2 linked regions of the Homo sapiens genome follow. The protein of the gene in region 1 purifies or fractionates together with the protein of each later gene. This does not show direct contact. Each region holds a gene or a part of one and is shown in the gene's direction. Other genes may lie near its edges.

The links. Proteins that work in one complex are often made in the same cells at the same time.
Region 2: the proteins of FGF8 (region 1) and DHX30 purify together in Homo sapiens (affinity purification with mass spectrometry; 2 studies listed by BioGRID and IntAct, with this or other methods). This does not show direct contact.

The regions. Positions count from the first base shown.
Region 1 is NC_000010.11:101,769,600-101,773,253, reverse strand, and holds the end of FGF8 (fibroblast growth factor 8 isoform F precursor), read left to right. Parts: intron 1-1,677; exon of another isoform or gene 1,678-1,684; coding exon 1,685-1,791; intron 1,792-2,557; exon of another isoform or gene 2,558-2,634; coding exon 2,635-2,925; 3' UTR 2,926-3,145; downstream 3,146-3,654. UniProt on the Homo sapiens protein: Plays an important role in the regulation of embryonic development, cell proliferation, cell differentiation and cell migration. Required for normal brain, eye, ear and limb development during embryogenesis.
Region 2 is NC_000003.12:47,837,637-47,841,284, forward strand, and holds part of DHX30 (ATP-dependent RNA helicase DHX30), read left to right. Parts: intron 1-3,240; coding exon 3,241-3,542; intron 3,543-3,648.

The DNA.
Region 1 (3,654 bases):
CAAGCTGGTGTGGGGGAATTCATCTTCAGACATCAGAGGAAGCCTGATGTCCACTTCTCTCCGTGGCCATATAAGAGGTTTCCCGCCTTCCCTAGTCCCTGCCCCACAGCAGGATAGGAGCTGGAGGCCCTAAGAACAGAGGCTCAGGGTGTTCAGCCAGGACAGGAGTAGTCCGGGGAGAATAGCAGAGAGGTCTCAATGGCTTCTTTACCGGCCCCAGGAAGATGCAGAGGCACCTACTTCATCCCTGCCTGCCGCATCTGGCCAGAATCCCCAGAGTGGCATCCTCTCACTCCTCCAGTCAGCATCCTTCCTGGCCCTTAAAAATAGCTGCCTCTTGCTGTGGAAGGCAGAGCGGGAGAGGGATGAGCAGACTGGCTAGGTCCAGGAGGAGGTGGGCAGGCAGGGAGGTGACAGCTGCATTTCCCTGCTGACTTGGGGCCAAACCGGGGGCTTGGCCACTGGTCCCAGCACTGAGCCTGTGTGAAGCGGGGAACATTACAAGCTGAGCAGTGATGACTGACTTGCTGACCTCGATGCCCCAAACCCCTGCCATGGGTTTCAGGGACAGAGGAGGTGCCATATGTCAATGCAGGCTAAGTCCAAGAACTGCTTTCTCAGGGAGGGGAGAGGCTGGGCTCTGCGGCAGGGACGGCAGGAGAGCCAGCGCCTTCTGTCCCTTCCTAAACAGTGAAGTCACCCTCACTACTTTCTTGAGGACAGCCTATAAGAGATGATTGCACAGAGAGGTGAACAGGACAGGCTTCTGTGGCAAGTTGGCTGTCTAAGGGGAGGGGAATGGGAAAGGAGGCATAGAATTCAGCCCTGCCTCCTGGCCTCCAGTCTAAGAGGCCAGCAGGCAGGATTCTCCCTCCTCCTCACCCACAGAAGCTATTTGGTCACTGGGCTGAGAAGCCCAGCTGTGATGAGGCTGAAAGAGAAAAGACAATTGAGTTGTTGATTTCTAGACACTGGGCTGGGGACCCTGGTGACTGGGAAGCCACAGGGAAGAGGCAGGATCCTCCTGGCAGGTGTCTGAGGTTCTGGGAAAGCAGCCTGCTTTGGGCTGTGTGTTTAGGGAGAGCTGTCCCCATCCCTAGCACCTTCTCAGCAGAGCAGAGCCTGGTGATGTTGAGGGGCTGGGGGTGGCCAAAGCTGTGAGTTAGAACCCAAAGTGGCAGAAACAGGAGACAATGCTTTCATCTTTGGCCTTGGGACTGGAGGTCACCCCTTCACCCAAGTGTTTGTAATGACCTGTGAGACACGCACACATAATATTTGGAGTTGGAAGGATCCTCGGAGATCTTTTGATTAGCTATGGAACTCTGATTCAATTAAATTTTACTTAGATCCTCAATCTAAGAGACATCACTGTCTGGTTTAAAAAGAGGGTGGAAGGAATGGCACTTCAGCCTTTTCAATTTGATAGTCCCAAGACCTCTCTTGAGAACCCAGTTTGAAAACCATAATCCCGTCCACTGCCCTCTGTAAACCCAGGGGTGGGGCCCGAGGTCCAGAAAAGCCCTTTCTCTGGGTTGCACAGCATGTTAGTAGCTGGGCTGGAGCTGGAGTCCATGTTTTGGGTTCCTGGTCTTTGGAGCAGTTGCTGCTGGGCTGTGACAAGTGTGTGGGCCAGCTGGGGTCAGGGATCTGCCAATAGCCATCCTGCTACCTTCTCTGACAGCAAAGCTCATCGTGGAGACGGACACCTTTGGAAGCAGAGTTCGAGTCCGAGGAGCCGAGACGGGCCTCTACATCTGCATGAACAAGAAGGGGAAGCTGATCGCCAAGGTGAGGCCCCAGCAGGCAGGTGGGGTCCGCGGGACCTAGGGAGTGGCTTGGGCTGGCTGGACTCCTCCAAGACAGTCCTGGGCTCTGATCCCAACAAGGTAGGCAGAAGGCCACAGGGCCATCTTGGGGTTACCTCACGATTGGGTGCAGGAGTGAGGGAGAAGGAAGCTGTTTGAGAGATGAAAACTATAAAAGGCGAAGGAGGAAGAATGAAGGCTAGGGAAGGGGCTGGGGGGTGGTGGTTGGTAAATTCCATATATCTTTTTAACAAATCGCCAAATTGCTTTGCTATTATGTCCAATTACATGGTACCAGCATTTGGAATGTTCAGTAAGCCGCAGGCCCAGCCCCTCGGCCGAGCTCTGAAATGGCTCCATTAGTCACGGCTCCTCTCCAGCCTCGAGCTCCCCACTTCCTGGGCTTCTGGGGCTGGGGTCTTAGCATCTTCTCCCAGGCCTCCCCTCCCCCATAGGGTGGCTGCCCTGGGGCCAGGGAACCGAAGTCCTGGGGGGGTGAGAGGGGCAGGTGGGGAGACGGGTGGCCAGACTGGTGGGCAGGAGGCCAGAGCAGGCCAGGCTCTGGGCCCCTCTCTCTGTCTTTCTGCGTTGGGGCCCAGCCCCTCCGTAGACAACCATGTGTCACTGCTGCCTGGGAGGACAGGAAGTTGCCGGGTGGGCTGCGAGTTGTGAGGGATTAGAGAGCGGGTGCCCAGGCAGGGGGTGGGGCTGCGGCTCCTGCCCACCTCGCCATCTGCTGGGGTGCCCACCTGCTGTCTGGGGCCGCTCGCCCTCTGCCTCTGCTGGGGGGGCTCTGTAACGTGGTGTCTGGCTCCCCTACCTGCAGAGCAACGGCAAAGGCAAGGACTGCGTCTTCACGGAGATTGTGCTGGAGAACAACTACACAGCGCTGCAGAATGCCAAGTACGAGGGCTGGTACATGGCCTTCACCCGCAAGGGCCGGCCCCGCAAGGGCTCCAAGACGCGGCAGCACCAGCGTGAGGTCCACTTCATGAAGCGGCTGCCCCGGGGCCACCACACCACCGAGCAGAGCCTGCGCTTCGAGTTCCTCAACTACCCGCCCTTCACGCGCAGCCTGCGCGGCAGCCAGAGGACTTGGGCCCCCGAGCCCCGATAGGTGCTGCCTGGCCCTCCCCACAATGCCAGACCGCAGAGAGGCTCATCCTGTAGGGCACCCAAAACTCAAGCAAGATGAGCTGTGCGCTGCTCTGCAGGCTGGGGAGGTGCTGGGGGAGCCCTGGGTTCCGGTTGTTGATATTGTTTGCTGTTGGGTTTTTGCTGTTTTTTTTTTTTTTTTTTTTTTTAAAACAAAAGAGAGGCTCTATTTTTGTATTCCACTTGGCTGTGGTGTCTGTCTTCTTAACTCTCAGAAAGCTCCATTAGTGGCCTAGACTGGGATTCCGGCTGGGGGTTTGCGGGGGTGGGGGGCTTTCTCTAGCCTGTGCTGCTGAGGCCCCAGTACCTCCAGGGCCAGTTGGCTGGGCAGCCAGGGACTCCACTGCACCCCCAGGTGGGGCAGGGAGGAAAGGACTGTGACATAGGGCAGTCCTCTTAGAAGTGGGTATCAGACTGGTGGCTATTAAATGATTGAAATATTTATTTAACTTGCATATTAAAAATGTGTGCTGGAGAGTGAGTCCTGCCGGGGTCAGCCCCTCCCTCCAACCTTGCCCCAGCTGGTGGGCGGCTGGGAGACGCAGATGACCAGGTGCCAGCTCTGACCACAGCCTCCCTCCAGCCTAAAGACACCTGCCTGTCAACCATCCCCATCACTGTCACTTGAGGGGTTTTCCTGCAAGGACAGAAGCAGGGAAAGGGGCAAGAAGAGGCTCTTAGCTAGTCCTTG
Region 2 (3,648 bases), on another chromosome or scaffold:
TGTAATCCCAGCTACACAGGAAGCTGAGGCAGGAGAATCGCTTGAACCTGGCAGGCAGAGGTTGCAGTGAGCCGAGATGATGCCATTGCACTCCAGCCTGGGTGACAGAGTGAGACTCTGTCTCTAAAAAGGAACAACAACAAAAAGGTATTAGAGAAGTTGCACGGACAGCTCCTGGACAGTTGAGGAGGTGGGAGGGAGAATGGGTTGGAGGGGCAGCATGCGCCAGCAGGGGGAGCTGTGGACGAGCAATGGGTTGGCGCCTAGGTTATGGCAAGAACAGTGGCTGGTGGATGTTGGTACAGCTCAGGACCGGTGTGGGAGCATGGCCAGGACCAGCAGTGAGCCTGTGGGGACGAGATCCTCTGGTCTAGTGAAAGAGTGGTTGCAAAGGCAGGGGGAGAACGGTGCTGTCCTGCTGGGGAAGCCAGGCCAAGGAGGGATGCTTGTATTGCTGCTCTGTGGAACCAGAGGCATTCTTGTCAGAAGGGAGGCGGTGACGCAAAAGTGTGGCAGCTGAGCCTTGGATCGGGCCCTGCCCCAAGGGTTCGCGAATGTGTGTGTGGCATACCTTGGCCCCATCGTCTGTCCCATAATCCTGCGGTTTTCACGCGTCTATTCTTAATAGACAGACTTTAGAATTGGTTTGTCAAATGCTTAATAAGAAGCCTCTGCAGACTTTGATTGGAATTGTGTTCAATTTATGGATTAATTTAAGAGGTTTTTGTCTCCTCACACATAAAAGTTCTATCATCCAGGAACATATATCTCCATGGATTTACATCCTTTTGCCAAGTTGTGTGCTTAGTCCATACCTTTCTGACCCACCTTAGTTCACCTTAGGTAGGTGATGGTTTTTGTTACTGTTGTGAATAGAATTTTTAAAATTAAATTTAATTATCTCAAAAACCCAAGGAGAAAGTTTTATGAAGGCAGGCCATGGTCACTCTCCAGCTTGTCATGAGTTGGGTGGGATTGAAAGCTCACTGTAGAGAGGTTCCTGGCCCGTGGCCCGTGCTGTCTGCTGTCACATGGCCCTGATGTTCACCTGACAGGCCTTGTTCTTGCTGTCCCGCAGACTTTGTCGCCTTTACCACTCCCAGTGGCAGCTCCTGCAACCTGTGCTTTCTTTGCAGTTGCTCCTGTTCTCCCAGCTGCTCACTCATCTCACCCACGTCTTTGTTCCTTAGACCCTGGCCATCTGCATTTCTCTTCTGCTGCTTAGATTCCTTGTTTGTTTGTTTGTTTGTTTTTGGAGATAGGGTCTTGCTCTGTCACCCAGGCTGGAGTTCAGTGGTGTGATCATGGCTCACTGCAGCCTCGATCTGTAGGCCTCAAGTGATCCTCTTGCCTCAGCCTCCCAAGTCTCTGGGACTACAGGCACATACCACCACCCCTGGCTAACTGCCTCTTATATTCCGAACTGCTTGAGGGCAAGGACCAGGTCTTGTCTCTCCTGATGATGCTTAGGTGGCCAACATGTTGCTGCGTACATGCTAGAGACTTAGGCAATGTTTAATTTATATTTTCTGTAGAAAAGCATGAAGCTATAACACATTTAAAATCATATTTTTGTATAAATAGCTTTAACATTTCAAGTTATTTCTCTAGAATGTATTCCTAACATAGGATTCTTATATTCTCTTTTTTTTTTTTTTTTTTTTGAGACGGAGTTTCGCCGGAGGTTTGCTCTTGTTACCCAGGCTGGAGTGCAATGGTGCGATCTCAGCTCACCGCAACCTCTGCCTCCCAGGTTCAAGTGATTCTCCTGCCTCAGCCTCCCAAGTAGCTGGAATTACAGGCATGCACCACCATGCCCAGCTGATTTTGTGTTTTTAGTAGAGACGGGGTTTCTCCATATTGGTCAGGCTGGTCTCAAACTCCTGACCTCAGGTGATCCGCCCACCTCGGCCTCCCAAAGTGCTGGGATTACATGCGTGAGCCACCGTGCCCAGCCTTCAGGATTCTTATATTCTTATATATAACTTCTTATAACAGAAGTTGTATCCGTTTCATGGTGTGGGCTACATAGGTTTTTTTGTTTGTTTGTTTGTTTGTTTTTTTGTGGAGTCTCTATTGCCCAGGCTGGAGTGCAGCAGCCCCATCTCAGCTCACTGCAACCACTGCCTCCCAGGTTCAAGCGATTCTCCTGTCTCAGCCCCCTGAGTAGCTGAGATTACAGGTGCCCACCACCACGCCCGGCTAATTTTTGTATTTTTAGGAGGATGGGGTTTCGCCATGTTGGCCAGGCTGGTCTCCAACTCCTGACCTCGAGTAGTCCACCTGCCTGGGCCTCCCAGAGTTCTGGGATTACAGGTGTGAGCCACTGTGCCCGTCTGGCTACGTATTTTTTTTTCTTTTCTTTTCTTTTTTTTTTTGAGACGGAATCTTGCTCTGTCGCCCAGGTTGGAGTGCAGTGCCATGATCTTGGCTCACTGCAAGCTCCGCCTCCCAGGTTCACGCCATTCTCCTGCCTCAGCCTCCCAAGTAGCTGGGACTACAGGCACTCGCCACCACGCCTGGCTAATTTTTTTGTATTTTTAGTAGAGACAGGGTTTCACCGTGTTGGCCAGGATGGTCTCGATCTCCTGACGTCATGATCCGCCCGTCTCGGCCTCCCAAAGTGCTGGGATTACAGGTGTGAGCCACCGCACCCGGCCCTACGTACTTTTTAATTGCTGTATTTACTGAAGCTTCCTAGATCATTATGTGAATGTATCTTCTTGGGCTTGGTGCGGTGGCTCATGTCTGTAATCCTAGCACTTTGGGAGGCCAAGGCGGGCGGATCTGTTGGGTCCAGGAGTTCAAGACCATCCTGGGCAACATGGTGAAGCCCTGTTGCTACAAAAATTCGCTGGGCGTTGTGGTGCATGCCTTTAGTCCCAGTTACTTTGGAAGTTGAGGTGGGAGGGTCACCTGAGCCCAGGAGGCAGAGGTTGTAGTGAGCCGTGATTGTGCCACTGCACTCCAGTCTGGGTGACAGAGCGAGACCCTGTGTCAAAAAAACAAAAAACAAACAGTATCTTCTGCTCACCCATTGCCATGTGGGGTTATTTGTTTGCATCAAAGCTAGGCATCTTTGAGAGTTCCATGCCCAGTTCTGGACTAGGGGCTGAAGTGGGTAAACAGATGAAAAACCACGGCTGCACAACACAACTTAACGGTGTAGCTGGACACGGACCAGGCCGACTGAGGTGTAAAGATGGTATCAATCCTTAAAACGTCCCTTTTCCCCTCCAGGGTTGGGGTCTGCTAGGTCCCCGGAATGAGTTGTTTGACGCAGCCAAATACCGAGTGCTAGCTGATCGCTTTGGCTCCCCTGCCGACAGCTGGTGGCGTCCGGAACCCACCATGCCCCCTACTTCCTGGCGGCAGCTGAATCCAGAGAGTATTCGACCAGGGGGACCTGGGGGCCTATCCCGCTCTTTAGGCCGGGAAGAAGAGGAGGACGAGGAGGAAGAGCTAGAAGAAGGGACCATAGATGTTACCGACTTCTTGTCCATGACCCAGCAGGATTCCCACGCTCCACTCAGGGACTCAAGGTACAGATGGAGGATGGGGATGCAGCAGAGGCTGGCTGTGCCTTGACACGGGGATGGGCGAATGTTCTCTGCTAGCTTTCTCTGAGATGGGAGCGCCCCTGCCTCA